7 linked regions of the Homo sapiens genome follow. Changing the gene in region 3 together with the main gene of any one other region gives a genetic interaction. Each region holds a gene or a part of one and is shown on either strand. Other genes may lie near its edges.

Region 1 (3,500 bases), on a different chromosome or scaffold from region 3:
CTCAAAAAAAAAGAAAAAGAAAATAAATAAATAAATAAATAATTTATGACATGATATCATCAAGCAATAAATTCTTAAACAAAAGCTTTGTGATCAGAGATCCTTTTTTGTTTGTTTGTTTTTGTTTGTTTTGAGACAGAGTTTCACTCTTGTTGCCCAGGCTGGAGTGCAATGGCTCGATCTCAGCTCACTGCAACTTCCGCCTCCCGGGTTCGAGTGATTCTCCTGCCTCAGCCTCTCAATTAGCTGTGATTACAGGCACGCATCACCACGCCCGGCTAATTTTGTATTTTTTTTAGTAGAGATGAGGTTTCACCATGTTGGTCAGGCTGGTCTGGAACTCCTGATCTCAAGTTCTCACTGTGTTGCCCAGGCTGGAGTGCAGCGGCTTGATCACTGCTCACTGCAGCCTCCGCCTCCCCAGGCTCAAGTGATCTTCCCACCTCAGCCTCCCTAGTTGCTGGGACTACAGGCACATGCCAGCACACCCAGCAAATTTTTGTATCTTTTTTGAGAGAGATGGGGTTTTTGCCATGTTGCCCAGGTTGGTCTCGAACGCCTGTGCTCAATCCTCCCACCTCAGCCTCCAAAGGGCTAAGATTACAGGTGTTAGCCACTATGCCCCGCCCAATCTGGCCTCTTCTTATAAGGGCAGATTATAAGAGGTTTGGTGAGATTAGTAGCTCATTCTTGAGAGTTCCACTTTCATGACCTAATTACGTCCCAGAGGCCCCACCTCCAAATACCATAACATTGAGGATTAGGGTTTCAATATATGAATTGGGAGGGGGAGATACACAAACATTCAATCCATGGCTGATACCATTTCTCTCAGGAAATTTTTCCTGACACCTGAAGTGCAGGATTGGTGTCCACAGTCCCCTGACCTTCACCACACGGGACTGGAAATGTCTGGGTACTTGGCCTTTCTCCCCCAATAAAATATAAACCCTGTGAGAGCAGACAGAGTTTCTGTCTTGATTCACAGCGGTGTTTCTAAGACCTTGACTGGGGCCCAGCAAAGTGCATGTACTCCAGGAACACGTGTCAGGTGTGTGCCTGTACACCTCCCTACCACATTAATAAAGACCACATTTTGCAAGATTCCTTAAAATCTCCAAGGTTACATTTTTCAGGTTACCTTGTTTCTCTAAATGTCCATATTACTTTCCCCTACCCTATCCATAACGCCGCAATTTTCCTTGAAATCTGAAATCAGTTCAACAGATAGGCCATAGTTAATGTTATTTTTATTTTATTTATTTATTGAGACGGAGTTTTGCTCTTGTTGCCCAGGCTGGAGTGCAATGGCGCGATCTCGGCTCACTGCAACCTCTGCCTCCCGGGTTCAAGCAGTTCTCCTGCCTCAGCCTCCCTAGTAACTGTGATTACAGGCGCCCGCCACCACACCCAGCTAATTTTATATTTTTAGTAGAGACAGGGTTTCACTATGTTGGCCGGGCTGATCTCCAACTCCTGACCTCAGGCAATCCACCTGCCTCAGTCTCCCAAAGTGCTGGGGTTACAGATGTGAGCCACCACGCCCGGCTTAGTTAATGTTATTTTTTAGGAACCTAATTCATCTCTCCAGCAAAGGACACATCTCTCCAGCAAAGGACACCTCTCTCCAGCAAAGGACACCTGCAGAGATGTCCCCAGTCCTTCACTTCTATGTTCGTCCCTCTGGCCATGAGGGGGCAGCCCCTGGACACACTCGGAGGAAACTGCAAGGGAAACTGCCAGAGCTGCAGGGCGTCGAGACTGAACTGTGCTACAACGTGAACTGGACAGGTTGGGCCCAGGTATTAGATTCTTGGGGGACATGCCTCGGTGCTGGGGGCAGTGTCTCAAGGTGTCCTTGCCCTGTCTCCCTGCAGCTGAGGCCCTCCCCAGTGCTGAGGAGACAAAGAAGCTGATGTGGCTGTTTGGTTGCCCCTTACTGCTGGATGATGTTGCTCGGGAGTCCTGGCTCCTTCCTGGCTCCAATGACCTGCTGCTGGAGGTCGGGCCCAGGTAAGTATCTCATCCTGCCCACCCCTTTCTTCTGCTTTCCTTTGCTTCCTCTTGTGATCCTTGGGAGATTTGCTTTTCCTTTGCTCTTTGCTACTTCCTGCCTAGGAAACCACACATGTGCTTTCCCCATTTGGGTAGATCCCTCCAAAGACCTAGCCTGCTCCAAAACATGTTCTCAAAGCAAAATAAATTAGATTCCAAGTTAAAATCAAACAGTTTTGGCCAGGCGCGGTGGCTCACGCCTGTAATCCCAGCACTTTGGGAGGCCGAGGTGGGGCAGATCACGAGATCAGGAGATTGAGACCATCCTGGCTAACACGGTGAAGCCTCGTCTCTACTAAAAATACAAAAAATTAGCCGGGTGTGGTGGCGGGCGCCTGTAGTCCCAGCTACTAGGCAGGCTGAGGCAGGAGAATGGTGTGAACCCGGGAGGCAGAGGTTGCAGTGAACCGAGATCACGCCACTGCACTCTAGCCTGGGCAACAGAGCAAGACTCTGCCTCACAGAAAGAAAAAAAAATCAAATAGTTTTGATGCTAGAGGACAGTTTTGGTTTGGTTTGAGTGTACTTTAAAAGCAGGTTTCTTGTTGCCCAGCCTGAGGCTGAAAGCCAATGGTGAGGGGATAGCGGTGGGAGGTTGTCCAGACAGCAGTAGGCAGGATCCACCCTCCCAGCTGAGGCCTGCCGGGGGTTCTCCAGTCCTAACCATCAGGCCCATTGTTCAGGCTGAACTTCTCCACCCCAACATCCACCAACATCGTGTCAGTGTGCCGCGCCACTGGGCTGGGGCCTGTGGATCGTGTGGAGACCACCCGGCGCTACCGGCTCTCGGTGAGGTGATGGGGAATCAGGAGGAGGAGATGAGCCAGAGATACAAGATTAGATCCTAAGCTCTAGAGAGAAGCAGGGACAGGTGCTCCTGGCTTTAGGCCTGCTCTGTATGGTCGTACAAGTTGTTCACTGCCTGAAAGTACCTGGTTGAGGGGTAAATGGGGCAGAAATCCAGCCTATGCTTCCTTTAATTTGTGCATCCTGGCATGGATTCATACCTGGAAAGGGCGTCTTTTTGTAATCTGAGAAAAAGTGCCATATGGTGTGGCAGTGGGCTAGCCTTGCATGACTAAGAGGGTAGGAAGGTGGACCATTTCTCTCCATTCTTAAACTCTTCACCCCTTGCCCTCTGTGTGTCTGCACCCCTAGTTTGCCCACCCCCCGTCAGCTGAGGTGGAAGCCATTGCTCTGGCTACCCTGCACGACCGGATGACAGAGCAGCACTTCCCCCATCCCATCCAGAGTTTCTCCCCTGAGAGCATGCCGGAACCCCTCAATGGCCCTATCAATATACTGGGTGAGGGCCGGCTTGCGCTGGAGAAGGCCAACCAGGAGCTTGGTGAGTAGCTGGGGAGGGAGATGTAGGGTCCAGGATAGGCCAGTAGGGGTGCTGAGATCTGGAATGTGGCTGCCTGAGTTCCATAGTCACCTCTTCC
Region 2 (3,500 bases), on a different chromosome or scaffold from region 3:
AGAGCAGCGCTCCAGCCTCTCCTCTGAGTATGGATGGAGCTCGCTTGGCCTAGAGCCTCCGAACACATCTCCTTCTGGTCACAGGGCCAGACCGCCCTGCAGAGACTGGCACCCTTCCTGTTGGGAAGGGCAGGAGGCAGCATGCCTCCCCCAGCCACCAGGGAAGCAGGCGGCCCAGGGCAGTGGTGGCTACATGGCCCCTGCTCCTGTCAGGGGCTGCAGGGACCACGCACCACGATGTTGTTCGGCTCCATAGACTCCACGGCCACCAGGAACTTGTGCTGAGCCTGCTGGTACTCCTCACTGTGCTCAAACGCAAAGAAGGAGAGGCCTTTTTTTGATTCCAGCAGCCGCATGGACAGACCTGGGAGGGGAGAGTGCTCAGGGAGGGTGTGCCGGGAGCAGGGACGTGGGCAGCTCCGAGCACAGCCCTCACCTTCGTGGTGTTCTGGATGAGGCCTCTGCGATATCGACAAACTTGACCTGAGTGTGTACTCATGGGTGTCACCAGCTCCGGACACCTTCCCAAAACACCCGCCGTCTGGTCTACACCAGGAGACGGCATCCCGTCTGCTTTAGTTTCCTATCAAGACGTGTTTGCCTCCAGAACTCGGATACAGCTCTAGCCCCACTGGCCTGGAGGGAATGTCAGGGACAAGGACACACACAGTCCACAGATCGCCAGATCTGACCACGCCGAGCACTGTCCCCAGACCACGTCTGATTGAGGAGAATGTCCGGGGTGGCTGTGGAAGGACAGGGTTGGAGTGCGGTGGCACAGGTGGCCACAGCGCCAGGCCTCTGAAGCCACAGAGCTTTGTAACGTGTGACCACCCTCTCACTTGGCTCCTCTTGTCTGACTGGGTGTATGGGACCCAGTTTCTTCTGATAAACCTGGAAAGCTCAGCCTCCCAGGACCTCCATGGACTAGGTCCCCTGTAGTGATACCTTCTTGATGGCCCTGCCCAAGGCCCCAGTCCTGCAGGAATACATGGCCATGGAACCCCTGTCTGCAGTGAGCAGGGGTTCCTGCCAGGAAGGGAAGGGGCCGTGAGCAGCGGGGTTCACCTTCTGACAGCACAGGCCTCGCTCCTAGATGTGTCCTTACAGAATGTATGCAGGCAATCTCCGGCACCCCCACAGACACAGGCGCAGGAGAAGCGGCCGTGGGAGCCATGGCAGCGCTGACAGCAGCAGCCATGCCGATCACCAAGGGCACCACACAGCTCCCTTCCCACAAGCTGTCCTTGCCCTGGCCCCTGAGGGCCCCCACAGTTCAGCCACTGCAGAGTGGAGGCCAGTGTGGAAGGCCTCCTGACACTTCCCCACACCACACAACCAAGCACCCAACACTCCATGCCTGTCTTCACTGTTGCAATTCATCTTAAAATCACTTATTAGTTTGCAATAATATACAAAATATTGCAGTTTAAAATGAACTCGATTGCTTCCATAAGGGAAAGGTCGATGGCAGAATGGTAGGAAGAACCTGCGTTAAAAGACAGTCACACAAAGACTGTGCCTGGGAGGCTCCGTGTTGAGGTACTGGGCCAGGCCTCCAGCACTCAGGCCCTCAGTGTGGCAACAAACAGTCACACACTGCACACTCCTGGAGCGCTCCTGGAGCAAAGAGTCTCGGCTCAAGAGGCACTGACGCCCCTGGTGCCCAGCGCAGGCCAGTGCACAGAACACACCCCCCCGCCGCCCTCCACCCCCAGCAGCCTCTGCAGACCCTCACCTGGTTTGCTGTACCGGGGCCAGTGCACAGACAACGCCCCCCAACCCTCCATCCCCAGCAGCATCTGCAGACCCTCACCTGGTTTGCTGTAGCGGGGCCAGGTGCTTTTAGGGGTGGTCAGCCATGTGCACTTGGGGTACACACGTTGTCTCTGCCGTGGCCTGGGGAGAACGGGACACAGGTACAGCTTTACTTCCTGTGGCGTGTGGGGACCAAGGCTTGGCTGCCTGATCCCTGCACGGGCTGTGGAAGCAAAACTGAGGGGCAGAGAAGGCATGTGGGGCAGGGTGGGGACGCATTAAGGACAGGATGCAAACAAGCGTCAGCAACTGCTGTGGGACGGGTGCAGCAGGGAGGGCCCCATAGAGAGAAAGAAACAATTCTGGCTGGGCACGGGGGCTCACACCTGTAATCCCAGCACTTTGAGAGGCCAAGATGGGAGAATTTCTTGAACCCAGGAGTTCGAGACTGGCCTGGGCAAGACAGCAAAACCCCATTTCTACAAAGGGTTTTAAAAATTAGCCTGGCGTGATGGCCTGCACCTGTGATCCCAGCACTCCAGCCTGGACGACAGAGCAAGGCCCTGTCTCAAGAGGAAAATAAAAAAAGAAAACGAAAAGAAAGAGAACAACGTACTAATATCCACATGCCCATCACTCAACTTAAGAAACCAACCATCTCTGAGGTAACAGCAGCTCCATGCCTTTTCCATGCTGCCCCACCTGCCCAGCTCAGATACCAGCTGACCAGTGCTTAGAGTGGGCCTGACCCCTGTGGCAGAGACCCCCAAATAACAGAGGTCAGGGCACTCTGCCTGAGCACACAGGCACCAGACAGGTGGGGCGTGGCAGCCGCGGCAGCACAGACAGCAGCAGCCATGCCCACGGTCACCATCAGCACGGTGCAGCTCCCTTCCCACGGGGCCATCCCTGCCCTGGCCCCGGGCTCCCCACAGTTCAGCCACCGCAGAGTGGAGGCCAGTGTGGTGGGCCCTCCTGACATGAAGGTGGCCCCAGCCTGCTTCTCCTGCCTGTAGCACACGCCCAGGCCTAGGAGAGTCAGCCCTTCAGCACTCTCCTGGGCCAGATGTACAGAATCCCAGGGATGGCCTGACCTGCGGTGAGCTATCCCACAAAACAAGTAAGGAAGCCTCCAGAACAGACCCAACGAGGCAGCCTGGGCAGATGCCAGGAGGGGGCAGGGGACAGGAGCCTGGAGGAGCTCTGAAGGCTGGCAGGCGCCCTGAGCAATGGGAGGAGTGTGCTGAAGTGCGGGGGCGATGAGCTGACCGGGCTGTCGTAGTAGGAAGTCAAGGACCCAAGAGAAAGCAGTGCCTGTTATTCTGAGCTTCTGAGAGAACCACCAGAAGGAGAAATGGAAACAGGCCAGGTCTTTGTCTTGGAGGAGCAGGACAAGGAATGAATAAAAAGGAAACTGTGGCTTCTCCATGTAAGTCTTTTGGTAGGACTTAAATTTTTAAAGAAATAAATAAACAAAAAAGTTTAATAATACTATAAAAATAATAAAGGCAATTATTGTCAACTAATTACTACGAGTAATCAGTATTAACAGTTATAATACTAATTACTATTAATAATTATAATTTGCAGAAATAAAACCATGCAAAAATATAAAGAAATGACCAAGACAGACCAAGCAGATGCAAACAAAGGGTGGGACGAGGTGGAACCCTCAGCTCAGAGAAATGCAGATGACAAAGTGACATTTTAAAGTCTATTTTTAATTAATATTCCCGAAGAAA
Region 3 (3,500 bases):
ACTGTGAACACTTTCTGTGTAGCCTTCCAGAAAAACAATTTATATATACACATGTGTGGGCTGAGCGTGGTGACTCACGCCTGTAATCCCAGCATTTTGGGAGGCCAAGGTGGGAGGATTGCTTGAGCCCAGGAGTTCAAGACCAGCCTGGGCAACATAGCGACATTATGTCTCTAAAAAAAATAAAAAGGGCCGGGGGTGGGGGTGGGAATCAGACAGATGGTGGCTTGAGCCTGTAGTCGCAGCTATTCAGGAGGCTGAGGCTGGAGGATCACTTGAGCCCAGAAGTTCAAGGCCGTGGTGAGCTATGATCACACCACTGCACTCCAGCCTGGGCAACATAGTAAGACCCTGTCTCTAAAACAAAACAAAACAAACAAACAAACAAACAAACAAAAAGTGGGGGAAAAAGTTAGCCAGACATGGTAGCTACAGCCCATATTCCCAGCTACTCAGGAGGCTGAAGTGAGAGGATCACTTGAGCCCAGGAGTTTGAGGCTGCCGTGAGCTATAATCACGCCACTGCACTCCAGCCTGGGGTAACAGAGCAAGACGCTGTCTCTCAAAAGAAAAAAAAAAAAAGAAAAGCATATGTGTGTATGTGTGTGAATCTATATCTATGTTTGAAAAAAGCATGCAACATTTCATATAGGATGCTATCATTTGGGTTTCAAAAGGAGAGCACACATATATATTTGCTGGTACGCACAGAATATCTCTAGAAACTGCTACCACTTGCCTCTGGAGAAGGGAAAACATTTTTTGGTAGCTATTATATTTTGAGTTACATGCATACATATTTTCCTTTTCAATTACACACACGTTATCCATTTGCTTAGGAAGCTCTTTTTTTTTTTTTTTTTTTTTTTTTTTTTAAGACAGAGTCTCGCTCTGTCACCCAGGCTGGAGTGCAGTGGCGCGATCTCGGCTCACTGCAAGCTCCGCCCTCCGGGTTCACGCCATTCTCCCGCCTCAGCCTCCCAAGTAGCTGGGACTACAGGCACCAGCCACCACACCCGGCTAATTTTTTGTATTTTTTTCGTAGAGACGGGGTTTCACCACATTAGCCAGGATGGTCTCGATTTCCTGACCTCGTGATCCACCCGCCTCGGCCTCCCAAAGTGCTGGGATTGCAGGCGTGAGCCACCACGCCCGGCCAGGAAGCTATTTCTTAAGGTACATTTTCTTCCTAAATTCCTGTGTCTCGCAAAGTCTGAATTACAGTCATGGAGTTCCTTTTTTAAACAACAGTGGCCCCGTGGGGGCCTCAGTTCCCCAAGTCACTCCTGGCCTCCGCAACAGACACACAGGCCTCGGAATGCTGCCTCACCTTGTTCACCTGGGACAGCGGGGTCCTCACGGCTCCCGCAGGCAGCCGGCCCCTGCTGCTGTCTTCAAACAGCCTCCCGGGGGACCGCTCTCTCCGCGTGCTGAGCATCCGGCCGGGGGACTTCTCTCGCTCCAGGGGGCGGCCAGGAGACTTGTCCCTGCGCAGCTCGGTCCGCCCCTCGCGGTAGCGGTGGGGTGTGCTTGGCTCTCGCGGGTGGCTGGGGCCTTCGGGCGGCGCTGGGCTGGAGGCCACGCGCTTGGTGATGTGCTCGTTGTACGTGGGTGGGCCTCGCTTGTTGGGGCTGCTGGCGACACAAGAGGAACGTAGGGAGCTGCGAGGCCACAACCCCAGAGGGGCATTTTCCTTCTTACCTGAGCAACCCCCTCCTTGACCCAGCCTCACCACTGATTATCAAGAGATTAGACCTGGAGTTCTTTGGACTTTGCCTGCATTTGATTTTGGTAGCAAAGACAGGGAAGAGAGCAAAGATGGCAACAAAAGACAACCCACCTTCCTCAGTGCAGGCTTTCATTTACTGAGCACCTACTGTGTGCCAGGCCTGTGCTAAGTTCTTCATCTGCCATCTCTCATTATCTCATTAAATCATCACAGCAGCTCCTGAGCTATGAACAAGCATGACCCTCACTGTACAGGCAAGAAAATGGGGACAGACAGGAGTTAGGTGACTTGCCTGAGCTAATGAGTGGTAGAGCTGGGATTCCAATAAAGACCAGTTTGATAGGCCAGGCGCAGTGGCGCACACCTGTAATCCCAGCACTTTGGGAGGCCGAGGCAGGTAGATCACGAGGTCAGGAGATCGAGGCCAGCCTGGCCAACATGGTGAAACCCCGTCTCTACTAAAAATACAAAAATTAGCCGGGCGTGTTGGCGTGTGCCTGTAGTCCCAGCTACTCAGGAGGCTGAGGCAGGAGAATTGCTTGAACTGGGGAGGCGGAGGTTGCAGTGAGCCAAGATCGGACCACTGCACTCCAGCCTAAGTGACAGAGCAAGACTCCGTCTCAAAAAAAAAAAAAAAAAAAAAAGACCAGTTTGATGTCATAAGCCCCATATAATATCCTACTGACCTACTATTTCCCAGAGCCTAGAAGGCACAGAAGGAAGTCATCAACTAGGAGGTCAGCCTACTAAGACCCAGAAGTCAGGGACCCACAAAGGCCCTCAGTGCAAGGAAGCAGTTTGGAGAAACCCTGTACTGATCACTGTTAACTGCCATGTCTGTCCCACTCCTGGGCCTCGTGTTTGGTCACCTCTGCCCCCATGTGGCTTTCCAAGAGTCTCTGACACCTGATGCAAATGCAGATGCTCAGAAGGTGGATGGTTCTCAGTCATGACAATAAGACGACCGAGAGGTGTAGGGATCAGGCCTGATAGAGTCAGGAAACTGAGCAGGGCAGACAAAGTAAAGCGGGCTCAGAAAACGTCCCAGGCCTCAAAGGTTGATAATTAGTAACCAAGCAGTTGAAAACACTGCGGCCTTTTTGTACAACCCAACCCAATCCTCCACCCACTCCTGGCCTGGATATTTCAAATGAAGATTTCAGCAGACCCAGGGGCCAAACTCCCTCTCTGAAGATGTAGTAAGACCTACAAACACAGAGAGAACTGAAATGTGGCCTTCTGAGTCAATTCTTTCCCACCCTTGATCAGCTCTAAAAGTACTAGGGTCCCTATTATCTCAGCATAATTTGTGCTTGGAAAAGGCCCTACTTAAAATGGAGGAAAAAAATTACAGTGAATATTACTTGAAAACATATTTTGTTTGATTGAGGCTTTATCTTGGAATATAAACTTATTTTATGCTAGATATTTTTAGTATTTAAATTACAATGCAATTACATGCTGATTCCAAAAATGAACCAAGCATGAATCACAGAATGATTTGTTTTGTGCTAATTGTCTCAACAAAATTGCTGCTAACATGCTCTGACACCAACGTTGGACACATTGGACTTTTGCAGTGGATCCTAAAGAAGGCTCTTCAAAAATATTTGAAAAAGCCGGGCACAGTGATGCATGCCTGTAGTCCTAGCTATTAGGAAGGCTAAGGAAGGAGAATTGCTTGAGCCCAGGAGTTCAAGACCAGCCCGGGCAATATGGCAAGACCCCGCTTCTAAAAAACTAAAACTAAAAATTAAAACAAGAAAAGTGT
Region 4 (3,500 bases), on a different chromosome or scaffold from region 3:
TGTTGCCTCTACTCTCCTGCACTGGTGTCATAGAAGTCCGGCACTAGAAACCACTGATGTAATCCAGTCATCTTATGTTTTAGGTAAGGAAACTGACAGCGCAAGGAAATTAGATAATATAAACTAGTGGCAGCTCCTGACACCAATATCATTTTCTGTAGCACACATAGAAGTATTTGAAAAACCACTGACACATAAAAAAATAAGGAAACAAATAAAAGGTTATGTTGCATTAAAGAGAATTGAGAAACTGAAATGAAGACAAATGGCTTGGATCCACACTCCTAATTACCATATTGTGTAGTTCTTTCTAAAAGAAAGACAGTGGGATCCTCATGATCATCTTTAATTTATATTTGGAGAGTAATCATTGATTGCATTGATAAGTTATGGCACATGAGGAGTAAAGAAATAAAGCAACTTTTTAAAGACATCGTTCTATAAGAGGATTTCTTTACCTGGTTAGGCCTATGGAGACATAGAATCTTGAATTCCCTAAAAGTCACACAGGAGCCCACAGTACTATCTGTATATAATAGCACTTTTAAGAGTTTCTTTTCTTTCTTTTTGTTTTTTTTTAACCTGGGCTTTATGAAGATGTCCAGTCAGCAGAAAATGCTTATTTTTTCATTTTTAAAATAAGTACTATGAATGCTGAAATAAGATGGATTGTAAAGGATAAACAGTGGGTTCCTCATCACCAGTTAGTTGATGGAGACCTTTAACCAGGAAATCCATGAGAATACTTCAGATTCATCTAGGCCTGTCCTTGGACCTAAGATATGACATGAAATGATAATTTCTATGGTCTTTGTTGGGCCATCCTCTTTCATCATGGCCCTAACTAAGACATAGTTCTATTCTTTGAGCAAGAGCATAAGCAAAGCTTTAAGTACTGACTATAAATTTATTTCTATAGCACCTTTGCCTCACTCTAGTTGGCTTCTGTAAGATGCTACCTCTGGGCCTTTTGACTGCAATATTTTTGACCTAAACTTAATGCTCTCTGGTTGTAGCTGAGTTCCCTCATGTGCCTCAGCCGTCTTGGGCATGATAAGTGTTCTCATGGGCCCATGTGAAAGAAGGGAAGTTTGAAACTTGTTTTGGCAAGAAGAGTCATTTCCTGATAGAAATTGGAGATGAAAGTGGACCCCCGTAAAAGATTAACATAAACACCATGAAACTTCCTGTGCAATATCATTAAGCCTCTCCCATGAGAAGTAACACAGGATCATTACTATTAATCACATTATTTCCAATATTGTAGGGGTTACTGAAGCGTACTAAACACCAATAGGAATATGCAAGATCCAGTTTCTGAGTCCTGAGAGTTAAATTAAAAGGACTCAAGACCGATTGAAGATTTATAATATATTTCATTTCGAACATAGTTTAAATGTGTTGAAAGAGAAGAAAGTGAATGGTACAATAAACACTCTTTTATTTTCCACAAAGATTAGACTTGTAAACAATCGGTTTCACCTGCTAAATCTTTACTGCTCTGCTGACCTTTACTTACTCCTGGTCCCATGTGCTTCTAGTATAGGTGGATATCCAAGTGTTAATCTTTTGAATACAAGTGGGGATCATAAACCTGCTTTCAAAAAATGCGTGTGCTTGTTTTCTCTCCTCTGCTGGGGTTATCTCATGGCTGGTTAGGACTGAAAATAATTGACAACAGATTCTCCAGGCTCTGTGACTATATCAAGTATAGCTGTGACTTGAGCAATAAGTGGCACAGTCTTCTATTTCAGGATGGGTCCCAATCACTATCAAGGGGATGCCTAATAGAGATCATGGGTGGCAGTGACTATTTTGCTCTAGGCAAACTCTTACTGAAATCTTTGTCATTATTTCCTGTCCTTCTCTGTAGGCTTAAAGAATGTGAGAATATGGGTTTCTATAGGGACCTATGAAAACCAAATAAAAATACAACAGGATAATATTTCTTTTATACACATACTTTCATTTTCAGGAATTCCTTTTGTCTGGTAATTTTGTCTAGAACAGAGCAGTTAAATAAGTTTGTTTTAAAGGAAAGTTGACTGCATAGGTATGTTAAAAGCTACTCCCCAAGATTTTTATAAGCATCATCTGGTCCTTAGAAACCTCAGGCAGGGTTATTGCAAGATCCTCTTTATGGGTATTCTTCTTCTTCCACGTCCTCAAACCTCTAAAATCTCCTTCCTGTCACTGTCAGATTACCATTTCTAATATTATCTTAGTTTTTATTCTGAAACTTTTCATGGATCCCTCTTGTAATGTTCAAAGCCTGCTAAAACTGTCTTCAATTTCTTTTTAAATCCATCATAGAGTCTGTTAACATGTACTCTGTCTAAAAACCAGACTGACCTAGTCAATATCTCATGACTATGCCTTCCTTATTGTCCTTACTTTTGCTGATCCCTTTTCCTGGAATTTGTGGCTTACTTGGTGCTTTTACTTGGCCAAACTTTTGAATCTTTTAAGTTTTACTTTAAATTATACGTCTTTGTTACATCTTCCTTCACTGGCTACTCTAGCCAGTAGTCCTTATCAATATCACTTATCTGGCATTTAATCAAACCAACCAATAGTTTTGACTTTTTAAGTACCAATGTTTTTATACTCTGCAGAGACTAATGTGGTGCCACATACATATAAGCTCTTTAAAAATTTTTTTTACATGAATGAATAGCATACATTTGCAGGAACAATTTTAAGCTCGTTCATGAATGGTTATTATTTGTAATTAAACCATATAGTGCACAAAGTAAGCTGTTTGAATAACATAATTATAGAATTCTTAATAATAGCTATTGGGCATGTTTACCCTGCAAATTTCTTTAGTTGCTTTCTTGAGCTTCCTAGGGTATTTCTTCAAGTGGTGTGTTTCTAAGACGCTATCATTCATCCCTATCCCCATTTTTAGAATCTACCCATAAATATGGTGCAATTTCTGTTGGTTTTATTTCTGGCAAGTTAAATATATGTGGAATGTGGATACCACTTTTAAACATGTAAATATTTTGTAGTTCAGTATTTTAATGTTAATGGCTATTATTTTGCTATTTCTTACTTATCTGCCATTTAAACATTTAATCAATTTAAGCAATAAGCATGTACTGATCCACCAGTGTGTATTTCAGGACCATGTTAGGAACTGAAGAGGAAATATAAGAAGCTCAAGATGCCAGCTTTTTCTTTCTTTAAAGAAGAATAGATGAGGCCAATAAAACACAATACAAAAATATGTTATTAAGTGATTTTGCAGACTCTTGGGAGGAATATTTGCCTCCAGATAAAATGTTAATAAATATTTCATGAAAAAGGGTTCCAGATAGAATCTGGCATTTTCTATTCCTAGATATATGTGATAATACAACTTTGTTATAGCTAAGATTTCTCAGTATCTTAAAATAGACAACTAGACATATGCTTACCATTTTAAAAGGATCCTATAAAGGAAGCACTTGCAGTATAACTGAACTGAGAGGTGATGGGGATTCTCTTAGTTGCTC
Region 5 (4,264 bases), on a different chromosome or scaffold from region 3:
GGTGGGAGACCCCGCTGGTAGTTGTGGGCGACAGCACACAACACTGGAGAGCTTGCCCGCCTCTGCTATGCACTGAGTGATTGTCAGCAAGTCCCTTCCCCCGCTTGGGTCTCAGTTTCCCCATCTGTGGATTGAACTCAGTGACTTCCACAAGCCCCCAAACTTTAAGGTTATAGCATTAGATTTCAAGTATGTCCAGATAGGAAAGAAGACACAAAGAAAACTACTGGTTTCTTTTAAAGTACAAGATATCCCACCGAGTAGGAGGTGGGAAGCCAGGAGCCACCATATGAAGGGGAGCAGTGAAGGGAGTTCAGGCCAAGGGTCCACACCAGCTGCTGGGTGTGATGAATAACTCAGAGTTGGGGTCCAGAAAAAAGTAGGGACGGGCCAAAAACTAGGGATGAGCTCCCAGGAGAGTGAGTCCTAGAAGGGAGTTTGAGAGTCTAGCTGGGGTCTCCTACAGAAAGGTGGTCCTTCCCTCAGCACATCTCCTCCAACCGCCTAGTTTTGATGAAATCAAGAAGAGACGCTCAACGTAGCGGGTGTGATATCCTAGTACTCTCCTGCAGTTGGGAGAGTGTTGAGGGAGAGTTCCAATCCAGGATAACCCACCCTTATTCAAGAATTAAGCGAACAGACAAGGTCTACCCTCCTACAGATTACCTTTGAACAGCCGCAGAGGGCCAAAGATCCGAGGCAGTGAACTCCTGAGTCCGAGTGAGGGTAAAAGGAGTCCCCAGACGGTGGAAATGGGGGCCTGGGAGTCAGGAGTCCTGAAACCAAGGGGAGCGTCCCGGGATCCAGAAGAGGAGGTCTCAGGATGGAGTGGGAAGAGTCTCGGGACCACAGATGAGGGAGTTCGGTAACTAAAGGGGAGGATCCCAGGACCCGGAGGAGGTGGGAGGGACTCTCAAGACCTAGAGGGAGGAGTCCTGCGACCAAAGGGGAGGGGTCCCAGGATCCAGAGGAAGCCGGGGGAGGTCTCAGGACCGAGGCGAGGGAGTCCCGGGATCACAGAGGAGCGGGTCCCGGGTTCGAGTCGCTCTTGCCCTCCCGCCCGGGCCCCGCGCTCACTGTCCATGCCGGGGAAGGGCAGCGGCTGCGCCCCCAGCTGCTGCTCCACCGCGATCTCCAAGTCAAACTTGATGTGGTCCACGCTGGCGATGATTTCCTGCATGGCGGCGGCGGCGGCCCCACCGGCCCGGCTCCCCCTCGGTCTCCTGCAGCCTTCTCGCCTTTACCCGCCGCCGGCCCCGCCGCACACACTCCTCCTTCGCTTCGCCTCGCCGCCGCCGCCGCCGCCGCCCGAGGGATGCCGGGAGCGCCCGGAGCCCGCGCCGGCCCTTGCGCCTGTCCAGGCACTGCCAATCGAGACTCCGCCGTTCCGCTAGTCCCAGCTAGCCGCCAGCCGAACACCGGCCTCGCCAGAAACCTGAAACCAGCCGCGTGAGTCGGCGACGCGGATTGCGCCTGCGCGCTTGGGGAGAGGGGGACCCGAGGAAGAGACTGGTTCGCCGCGGGGACCGGGCAGGGCTCCCCGTCGGAGTGCACTGCGCCGGACACTTCAAGTGAGTTCCTGTGTGATCCTCGCAGGAGCCCCGGGACCCGGGCCAAGACACGCCAGAGGGGAAGGAAGTGCCCGAGCCGGGATTGGAGCCGGGGGCGTCTGAGGAGGGAAACTGAGGCTGCAGAAGTCCGTGTGGAGAGGGGTCGGCGTTGGCCTGAGGGTCCGGGTGGGCCTCTGAGGAGGGGCGGGTCTCTCCGAGGAAGGACGGCCGCAGCGTGTCTCTAATTCAGGGTTTTTTCTCGCTCTGTGGCCCAGGCTGGAGTACAGGGGTACGATCATAGCTCACTGCAGTCAACTTCTCAGACTCAAGCGATCCTCCCACCTCAGCCTCCCGAGTAGCTGGAACTACAGACGCTGCACCACCACACTTGGCTAATTTTTAAAATTTTATTTTTAATTTTTGTAGAGACGGCGGGGTTGGGGGGGCGGGTGGCGGGTCTTGCTATGTTGCCCAGGCTGGTCTCGAACTCCTGGCCCCAAGCCCAAAGCGATCCTCCTGCCTGGGCCTCCCAAAGTGCTGGAATTGCAGGCATGAGCCACTATACAGCCTAATTCAGGGTTTTTTTTAACCAGGGTGGGGTAATGAGCTTGTGTAGGAACAAAATGCACCCCTATTTTTCTCTATGTGAAGTATAGCATTTCCTTTCCTGATTGCTGGAGCAGCCTTAGCAGTGCCTGAAACTGTGAGGGTGAGTGTAAATGATAGTTCCAGATAACAGTTTGTGCAGGGCCAGGCATGGTGGCTCACACCTGTAACCTCAGCACTTTGGGAGTCTGAGGCGAGAGGATCACGTGAGGTCAGGAGTTCGAGACCAGCCTGGACAGGATGGCAAAACCCCGTCCCTACTGAAAATATAAAAATTGGCCTGGAGTAGTGGCGCGTTCCTGTAATCCCAGCTACTTGGGAGGCTGAGGCATGAGCATGGCTTAAACCCGGGAGGCAGAGGTTGCATTGAGCCGAGATTGTACCACCCCACTCCAGCCTGGTGACAGAGTGAGACGCAAAAAAACCCAGTTTGTGCAGCAACTACAAGGTGGTATCTTAAGCTGTCACTTACATTTATTACTGCTTTGAAATTATGATAGAGTCGGCCGGGCGCGGTGGCTCACGGCTGTAATCCCAGCACTTCGGGAGGCCGAGGCGGGCGGATCACAAGGTCAAAAGATCCAGACCATCCTGGCCAACATGGTGAAACCCTGTCTCTACTAAAAATACAAAAATTAGCTGGGCTTGGTGGCATGCGTCTGTAGTCCCAGCTCCAGGGGAGGCTGAGGCAGGAGAATCGCTTGAATCCGGGAGGCGGAAATTGCAGTGAGCCGAGGTCACGCCTGAGGACAGAGTGAGAGACTGTCTCAAAAAAAAAAAAAGAAAAGAAAAGAAATTATGATAGGGTCTTGTTATTTCATGCATTGAAAATAAGCATCTATACTAGTATAGCAGAAATTTGTTTTTAAAGCATTTTGATGCCATTTCAATATCATTGCTTTTTGTTTTGTAATTCTGTGTATTGTAATTAATGCACGTAAGGCAGGGCATGGAGGCTTACGCCTGCAATCCCAACACTTTGGGAGGCCAAGGCTGGAGGATTGCTTGAGGCCAGGAGTTCTAGACCAGCCTGGCAACATAGGGAGACTCCATCTCTACAAAAAAATACAAAAAATTAGACAGGTATGGTGGTGTGCACCAGTAGTGCTAGTTAATTGAGAGGCTGAGGTAGGAGGATCACTTGAGCCCAGGAGTTGGAGGTTGCAGTGATTGTGCATTTGCACTCCACTGTGCCATCGCACTCCAGCCTGGGCAACATGAAGACCCCATTCCACAAAAAAGAAAATTACATAAACACCATGCTTGTAAGAAGGAGTGGCAGGGCTTGCCAGATGCAGAATGATAAAGGCCCCCTGCACTAGTTTCACAAAAGGTGCTGGTCAGGACAATCATCAATGCGTTACATGGACCTGAGTTCAAAGCCAGCCCAGCCCAAGCTGGCCAGTCTCACCCACTGCACTGCTGCAGGACCCCAGCAAGTCTCTCCCCTTGCTGGGCCTAGTTTTTTGTTTGTTGTTGTTGTTGTTGTTTTGAGATGGAGTCTTGCTCTGTCGCTCAGGCTGGAGTGCAATGGCGCGATCTTGGCTCACTGCAACCTCTGCCTCCCACGTTCAAGTGATTCTCCTGCCTCAGCCTCCCAAGTAGCTGGGATTACAGGGGCACGCTGTCACGCCCAGCTAATTTTTATATTTTCGGCAGAGATAGGGTTCACCACGTCAGGCTGGTCTCGAACTCCTGACCTGAGGGGATCCACCCACCTTGGCCTCCCAAAGTGCTGGGATTACAGGCGTGAGCCACCGCTCCTGACCTACTGGGCCTAGTTTTTAATCTGTTCAATCTGCCATCACTTGTAAGACTTTTCCAATCGCAACCTTCTAATATAACCAGACTCTAAAATACTTTAGGCTGGGCATGGTGGCTCATTGCTGTAATCCCAGTGCTTTGGGAGGTCGAGGCGAGAGGATTGCTTGAGTCCAGGAGTTCAAGACCAGCCTGGGCACATAGCAAGACCCTGTCTCTACCAAAAAATAAAATTAGCCAGGCATAGTGGCTCACACCTGTAGTTCCAGCTACTCGGGAGGCTGAAATGGGAGGATCGCTTGAGCACAGGAGGGTGGGGCTGCAGTGAGCTATGTCTGACCTGAACC
Region 6 (3,500 bases), on a different chromosome or scaffold from region 3:
ATGAAAGAGGTAACATCACTACAGATTCTAACAATATTAAAAGGATAATAACAAGTTAACAGGAAGAAAAAAGAAAACAAAAGAGAAGTAAAAACAGGAGTGAAAACATTTTAATAACAAAAAAAAAAGGATAGTAAGAAAATACTATGAACAACTTTATGTCAGCCAATTCAACTACTTAGATCAGGGGTGTCCAATCTTTTGGCTTCCCTGGGCCACTTTGGAAGAAGAATTGTCTTGGGCCACTAATACTAACGACAGCTGATGAGCTGAAAAAAAAAGAAAAGGTCTGTGCATAAATCTCATGATGTTTTAAGAAAGTTTACGAATTTGTGCTGGGCCGCATTCAAAGCATCCTGGGTTGCATGCAGCTTGCAGGCCACAGGTTGGACAAGCTTGACTTAGATGAAATGGGCAAAATCTGTGAAAGATACAAACTAAAAAAGCTCATCCAAAAAATAAATAAATAAATAAATAGGTAACCTCAATAGTTCTAGATCAACTAAAGAAACTTAATTTGCAGCTTAAAGCCTTCCCACAAAACTCCAAGTCCAGATGGCCTCACTGGTAAATTCTATCAAACATTTTAGGAAGAAACAATACTAACTCTACACAAACTCTTCCAAAAAACTGAAGGAACTCAATTTGAGGTCAACATTATTCTGACATCTCAACTACACATTACAAGAATGCTACAAATATCTTTTGTGAACAGAGACACAATTCTCAAGAATTCTCAAGAAAACTTTAGCAAACTTTAGCAAACTTGAATTCAACGTATATAAAAATAATACAACATGATCAAGTGAGGTTTATCCAAGGAATGCAAGGTGGCTTTAGCATTTAAAGACCGATAATTCACCATATGACTAGACCAAAAAATGGAAACCACAGAATGAAGTAAAACTATAAAACTTCTCTAAGAAAACACAGGAGACCTTGGCTTTGACAAAGGATTCCTTAAATACAAAAAGCAGAAATATAAAGGGAAAAAATTAATCAGACTTCATTAAAATTTTTAAATGTTTGCTCCCAAGACACTGTTAAGAAGTAAAAAGACAAGCCACAGATCAAGAGAAAATATTTGCAAAAGATATATCAAACTAAGGATTTCTATCTAGAATATGTAACAAACTCTACATTTAAGTAAGACAACCGAAGATAAAAATGAGCAAAAGATCTGAACAGATGCCTCACCCTGCCCGTGATGATATACAGAAAGCAAATAAGCATCTGAAGGAAATGCAAGTTAAAACCACAATAAGGTAACAGTACACTGGACTACCTAAAACTAAAAGGGCTAACTATATCAAGTGTTGGTGAGGAAGTTGAGCAACTGGAACCCTGATATGCTGCTGATGCCAATGTAAAATGGCACAACCAGTTTGAAAAAAAAAGTCTGGCAGGTTTTTCTTTTTAAGTAATCACACACCTAATATACAATCCAACCATTTCACTCCTAATGTTTTTCCCCCAAACAAATGCAAGCATACGTCCCTACAATGACTTGTACAGAGATGTTCATAGGTTTCTTTTTCAGAAAGCCAAAAACTGGAAACAATCCCAATGTTCATCAATCATCTGAATAAATAAATAAAATGTGGTGTATCTACACACAGAATACTATCCAAAAATTAAAAGACGAGGCAGGCAGATACTTGAGGTCAGGAGTTCAAGACCAGCCTGGCCAACATGGTGAAACTCCATCTCTACTAAAAATACAAAAATTAGCCGGGTGTGGTGGCATGTGCCTGTAATCCCAGCTGCTTGGGAGGCTGAGGCAGGAGAATTGCTTGAACCCAGAAGGTGGAGGTTGCAGTGAGCCGAGATCGCACCACTGCACTCCAGCCTGGGCGACAGAGCGAGACTCCATCTCAAAAAAAAATAAAAACAAAAAAGAAATAAACTACTGACACATACAACAACGGAAGAATTTCAAAATAAGTATACTGAATGAAAGTAACTGAGGCAAAAAATGAGTATATACTATATAATCTCATTTATAAAAAATTATAGAAAATGAAAACTTATCATACGGTCAGAAAGCAAACCAGTCAGTGGTTGGCAAAAGACAGGTGGCAGGGAGGGATAGTAGAAAGGAACTACAAAAGGGCAGAAGGAATGTTTTAGAGGTCACGTTCACTGTCTTGGTTGTGCTGGTTTCACAGATGTATGCACTGTATTAAATTATATACTTTAAGCCCAGGACTTTGAGGCTGCAGTGAGCCATGATTGCACACTACATTCCAGCCTGGTGACAGAGCAAGACCTCAACTCGAAAAAAGTTAAAAGAAAATTGTACACTTTAATTACCTGCAGTTTATTCTATGTCAAGTATACCTCAACAAAGCTGCAAAAACACCAAAGGTTGGGGGAGGTTTCAAGGAAAGCCAGAGAATGAGAGAGAAAATAAAAATAAAAATACATGAGTCTAAGAGGACCAGTATCCTGAGTCTGGAAAGGGAAGAAAAAAAGGTCAAGAAATCATCAAACAGCATTCCCTAAAACCGAAGAACGTAAGACTCCAGACTCAAAGAGTGAGCCACGTACTGATCAAAATGAATCTGAATTTAAAATAACATCTATACCTGGGTACCTAATAATGAAAGTTTACACTATCAAGAAAAAGATCTTTTTAAAATCTAGGAAGGAAAACTGATCACAAAAGAATGAAAGCATATGAGCATAAAAATTAAGTCCTTCTGGTTTCCACACTAGCTCTGACATTTATCAGCTGAGTGACCTTGGGTATGATACGCGACCCTGCTGTGTTTCCATTTTCTCATCTGAAATAATAATAAACATAACAATAATCATTATTTTTCTGAGATGGAGTCTCGCTCTGTCACCAGGCTGGAGTGCAGTGGCGGGATCTCGGCTCACTGCAATGTCTGTCTCCCGGGTGCAAGTGATTCTCCTGCCTCAGCCTCCCAAGTAGCTGGGACTACAGGCGCGCCACCATGCGCAGCTAATTTTTGTATTTTTAGTAGAGATGGGGTTTCACCATGTTAGCCAGGATGGTCTGGATCTCTTGACCTCGTGATCCACCCACCTCAGCCTCCCAAAGTGCTGGGATTACAGTCGTGAGCCACCGCACCCGGCCAATAAACATAGTAATTATTATAACATAATAACAATATTGGTTGTCTCCAAATAACGTGCTTCTATTATTTGTATGTAATAAAAATAATTACAACAGTAGAAGTCATGTGGTTGTGAGGATCAAACAAGTTATAATAAAGTTCTTAAAACAATGGTAAATGCTATATAACTGCTGGTTAAATAAATACATCACATTAACACCGAACTTGTCATCAACACTACTAGATGAGAGAGTACAAAAGAACAATTTCTTTCAAAGTTCTGAGGGAACCTAATATTAAAACTGGAATTCCTGGCCAGGTGCGGTGGCTCATGCCTGTAATCCCAGCACTTTGGGAGGCAGGGGCTGGTGGATCACCTGAGGTCAGGAGTTCAAGATCAGCTTGGCCAACATGGTG
Region 7 (3,500 bases), on a different chromosome or scaffold from region 3:
ATCTATGTAGTTAATTAAAGTTAAAGTTTTTGCAGATCAACTACTCAAACTACTAAATACATTTACCTGAGAAAAAGTCTCTGAGAGCACTTCATTCCTGTTTTAGTTCGTGTAAATTCTCTGAGAATGTTCTGGAGATAGATAACTCATTTACAGTGGTTTCTATTAACTAATTAAAGTACCCATGATTTTTTCCTTTTCTGCTCAGGGATGATGGAGATTTCCTTTTACCTTCTGAGGTAGAATTTTTTAATGGGGAAAATAGGCCTTTTAAATATTATTGCCAGGGTCTGCAATATAACTTAAAATTCCTGTACATACTGCAAATATTTCTTTAAATTGCACAGGAAAATGAGCGAACTTTTTATTTCTTAATATCTTTGGCAAAAAACTTTAACCAGTAAGCAATTTTATAACCCTGAGGGATCATCAAAGATACTATCCTGATTCCTGGTAAGGAAAAATATATTATTTCCTTATAACAAGGCAAGGAGAAATGCTATTTTATTCCTGATAATTTATATAACTAGAATAATTTTTTTCCTTTCTTTTATGGACCTAAATCTGCCAATTGGGAATTTTGTGCATGAAATATGAAGTTACTTTTTATAGATAATCAGTGCTTTTAAGTCCCTAAAAGGCTCCTGCTGAAGTAATGATGATGTTAATAATAAAAGCCTTTGAAAGGCTGAAAACCTACATAGTGGTACCATAGTATTTGGAGCTTCTATAGGAGTGGAGAGGGGCAGCTCATTGTTGAGAGTTGCATGCTGCAACCTAATGGTCAGCAATGAAATAAATACTTGTAGAATGTTCACTTCAGTGTGAAGTTTTGTTATCTAGTTAATTTATATACATATATCCTTTGTAGATACATTTCTATCTAATCTTGTTGGGCTAATTAAGAAATAAGGGGTGGGGTAATTGTCAACAAAGGGAGAAGAAAGTGGTTTAAGATCAGGGCAGCAGAAAAATTAGAGAACAAGAATATCATAATATGGCTCCTGGTTTTCTTTATAAGAGGCAGTGGGAAGATCTGACTAGATGAAATGTATCATCAACCAAACTGGCATCTAAAATAGAATGGGATAAATACTGTATGGGGTTATTGGAGGCATATTAAGAAAGGACACCTAATTTATTTTGGGAAGAAGTATGTTAAGAGAAGACTTTCTAGAGAAGGAGAATGGGGCATTCTAGGAAGAGTCAATGGCATGTGCAAAGGCATGAATAAAGACAGTGAGGCATATTTTGGAAATGTAACAGCTTGATTCAGCTTAGCCCATAGGGTAAGCATAGACAACAGAGGAGACTTGAGGAATGAGAACTAGATGGGTACACTATCATAAAGGGACTTGTCTATCATGCTGAGGAGTTTAGACCATCTTAATGGTAGTGGCCAAGGATGGCATCAGATTTATAGTTTCAAGTGATCATAATATTGGCATAAAAGATATATTAGGGAGGAAGCCTGAAGTAGGGAGATGAAAATAAGGAGCCATCAAAGGCAGAATGAAACTTAGGCAGATTTCAAGTGATTTTCAAAAATGTTGTGATCAGAGGTACCAGATAATAACTATTACATAACACTTTCTTTGTTAGGAGCTTATTTCTCACACTGACCAAAGCTTTTGAAGTAAGTACTCTTTACACCACTATATAAATAAACCTTACAAAGGATTCTGCTTTGAGGCATGAGAGAGTTAAGTCATTTGCCCAAAGTCACAGAGTTAGAAAGTAATAGAGCTAAGATTTGAACCTAGGCAGTTTGGCTCCAGAGTCTGTGCTCTTACGCTATATTACCACCAAGAGGTCAAATAAATACCAAAGAATGTATTTTCGAATTTAACAATGAGGAACTTAATCATACAGGCAGAAGTAATTCCAGAGCACTGGAGACAGAAGCCAGATTGCCATATGGGTTAAAGAGTGTGTAAACCACTAGGAAGTAAAGACATAGAACTACTCTCACAAGTGCTTTTCTGGTTATTGTGACGCTGAACTTCATGGCTTGTTTTAATTAAGACATCTTACAAGTGTCAAAATTTGGAAATATTTGGACACTGTACACTCTGGTTATTTAAATATCTAACAATGGTTCTTGAGCATTTTGAGAAACCTTTGAAAATCTGATGAAAGGTATGTGCCATTACTCTAGAAAAATGTTCCTGTGTACATGCACATCAAGTATCACATACTGTTTCAGGCTGTTCAAAGACTACAAAGTCTGTTCATGACCTAATGGTCCATGTTCCCTCAGTTAAGAGCTCCAGAGATAAAGGATGTGGAACTCAAAGGTAAGTACCCAGAGCCTTGAAAACTCCATCTGTGACTTGGAAGAATTCTACAATTTGAATTAACTTTGTGGAGAGAGATATATTTTTGAAAAATTGTGTGTACCAAAAAAATTTCATATCAAATAATATTTTCCTGTAGTGCATTCAAGGATCTGGTTCCACAGCAAAAAATTGTTTTGGTCTCAGTTCCTCAAAATCACATTTAAGGAGCTTGAGATTTATATTTTCTACTTAATAAGTCTTACAAAAGCAAGTTAAGAAGGAAAATGGACAATCATTTCTGCACATATAGGGTTTAATAAAACATGTATAATAAAATATCTCATATTTTAAATTTCCACCTTATTGGTAGCTTTCATGACAAAGGGCTAGGGTGCTGATGGCCATACAATTAAGGTTTTTGGTTAGTTAGTTAGCAGAACTAACTGACTCCTACCTGGTGGGTTTTTCTTTTGTTTGGTTGGTTGGTTGGTTGGTTTTTTCCCAGATGGCTCAGGAGGAAGGTAAATAGCAGTCATTGTATGTGTGACAGAGTTTGAGATAGAATGAGCATATTGAATCTCACATCCTATTCTTATTACTGTCAGGCAGCGTTGACCTAGCAGTATAAAACTATCTGAAGCAATGTAGTCACTCAGTTCTCATAAAGTTTATTTCAAGTACTGTAACAATTCATGTTTGGATTAGAAAAGTCACTAGAAATTTGACTTCCATATAGTAATCTATACTTTTTTCTCTCATTTCCTTCATTTTTTGAGCCGTAAGTGTAAGGCATTTTGCTGGTATTATTACAATGGTTATGAGGAGTTTCTTTGCTTGCCCAAGGTCACATAGCTAGCAAGTTAAAGTAGATTCAAATCCAGGCCTGCTAGATACCAAATTATTATTTAAGAGTACTTTTCACTACTCCTAAATAATGACACAGATACGTTTGTCTTACACATTTCACTTTATTGTCAAGTTATTAGTATGTTTATTTTCAAAAGTTATTTTTTGCAATTTCTTTTTATTATTCCGTACTTTTTAAATTTACTTCATTATCACGTCTTCCTTTATTCTTTTTAAATAGTTTTTGCTTTTGTTATTTTGTTTTCCCTTTTTTACTCTTGGTTTGTAATACCTCTTTCCTTATTTGCTCCTTTCTCATTTGATCTCAATGTTAATCCAACTGTTTTCCACATCTGATTCACTAAAATTTTAGCC

Evidence for each region.
Region 1: changes in CIT (region 3) and PFAS together harm fitness more than expected from each alone (negative genetic interaction), as found in Homo sapiens cells (one large-scale study listed by BioGRID).
Region 2: changes in CIT (region 3) and TCF25 together harm fitness more than expected from each alone (negative genetic interaction), as found in Homo sapiens cells (one large-scale study listed by BioGRID).
Region 4: changes in CIT (region 3) and ERBB4 together harm fitness more than expected from each alone (negative genetic interaction), as found in Homo sapiens cells (one large-scale study listed by BioGRID).
Region 5: changes in CIT (region 3) and PTCD1 together harm fitness more than expected from each alone (negative genetic interaction), as found in Homo sapiens cells (one large-scale study listed by BioGRID).
Region 6: changes in CIT (region 3) and XRN2 together harm fitness more than expected from each alone (negative genetic interaction), as found in Homo sapiens cells (one large-scale study listed by BioGRID).
Region 7: changes in CIT (region 3) and SEC22B together harm fitness more than expected from each alone (negative genetic interaction), as found in Homo sapiens cells (one large-scale study listed by BioGRID).

The regions. Positions count from the first base shown.
Region 1 is NC_000017.11:8,252,289-8,255,788, forward strand, and holds part of PFAS (phosphoribosylformylglycinamidine synthase), read left to right. Parts: intron 1-1,570; 5' UTR 1,571-1,649; coding exon 1,650-1,791; intron 1,792-1,877; coding exon 1,878-2,013; intron 2,014-2,738; coding exon 2,739-2,844; intron 2,845-3,213; coding exon 3,214-3,403; intron 3,404-3,500. UniProt on the Homo sapiens protein: Phosphoribosylformylglycinamidine synthase involved in the purines biosynthetic pathway. Catalyzes the ATP-dependent conversion of formylglycinamide ribonucleotide (FGAR) and glutamine to yield formylglycinamidine ribonucleotide (FGAM) and glutamate.
Region 2 is NC_000016.10:89,890,592-89,894,091, reverse strand, and holds part of TCF25 (ribosome quality control complex subunit TCF25), read right to left. Parts: intron 1,900-3,500; coding exon 1,817-1,899; intron 365-1,816; coding exon 234-364; intron 1-233. UniProt on the Homo sapiens protein: Component of the ribosome quality control complex (RQC), a ribosome-associated complex that mediates ubiquitination and extraction of incompletely synthesized nascent chains for proteasomal degradation.
Region 3 is NC_000012.12:119,688,821-119,692,320, forward strand, and holds part of CIT (citron Rho-interacting kinase), read right to left. Parts: intron 1,635-3,500; coding exon 1,331-1,634; intron 1-1,330. UniProt on the Homo sapiens protein: Plays a role in cytokinesis. Required for KIF14 localization to the central spindle and midbody. Putative RHO/RAC effector that binds to the GTP-bound forms of RHO and RAC1. It probably binds p21 with a tighter specificity in vivo.
Region 4 is NC_000002.12:212,528,803-212,532,302, reverse strand, and holds part of ERBB4 (receptor tyrosine-protein kinase erbB-4 isoform JM-a/CYT-1 precursor), read left to right. Parts: intron 1-3,500. UniProt on the Homo sapiens protein: Tyrosine-protein kinase that plays an essential role as cell surface receptor for neuregulins and EGF family members and regulates development of the heart, the central nervous system and the mammary gland, gene transcription, cell proliferation, differentiation, migration and apoptosis.
Region 5 is NC_000007.14:99,435,999-99,440,262, reverse strand, and holds the start of PTCD1 (pentatricopeptide repeat-containing protein 1, mitochondrial), read left to right. Parts: upstream 1-1,464; 5' UTR 1,465-1,571; intron 1,572-4,264. Other genes in the region: CPSF4 (cleavage and polyadenylation specificity factor subunit 4), read right to left, coding at 1,078-1,180. UniProt on the Homo sapiens protein: Mitochondrial protein implicated in negative regulation of leucine tRNA levels, as well as negative regulation of mitochondria-encoded proteins and COX activity. Also affects the 3'-processing of mitochondrial tRNAs.
Region 6 is NC_000020.11:21,306,331-21,309,830, reverse strand, and holds part of XRN2 (5'-3' exoribonuclease 2), read right to left. Parts: intron 1-3,500. UniProt on the Homo sapiens protein: Possesses 5'->3' exoribonuclease activity. May promote the termination of transcription by RNA polymerase II.
Region 7 is NC_000001.11:120,152,521-120,156,020, reverse strand, and holds part of SEC22B (vesicle-trafficking protein SEC22b), read left to right. Parts: 3' UTR 1-3,500. UniProt on the Homo sapiens protein: SNARE involved in targeting and fusion of ER-derived transport vesicles with the Golgi complex as well as Golgi-derived retrograde transport vesicles with the ER.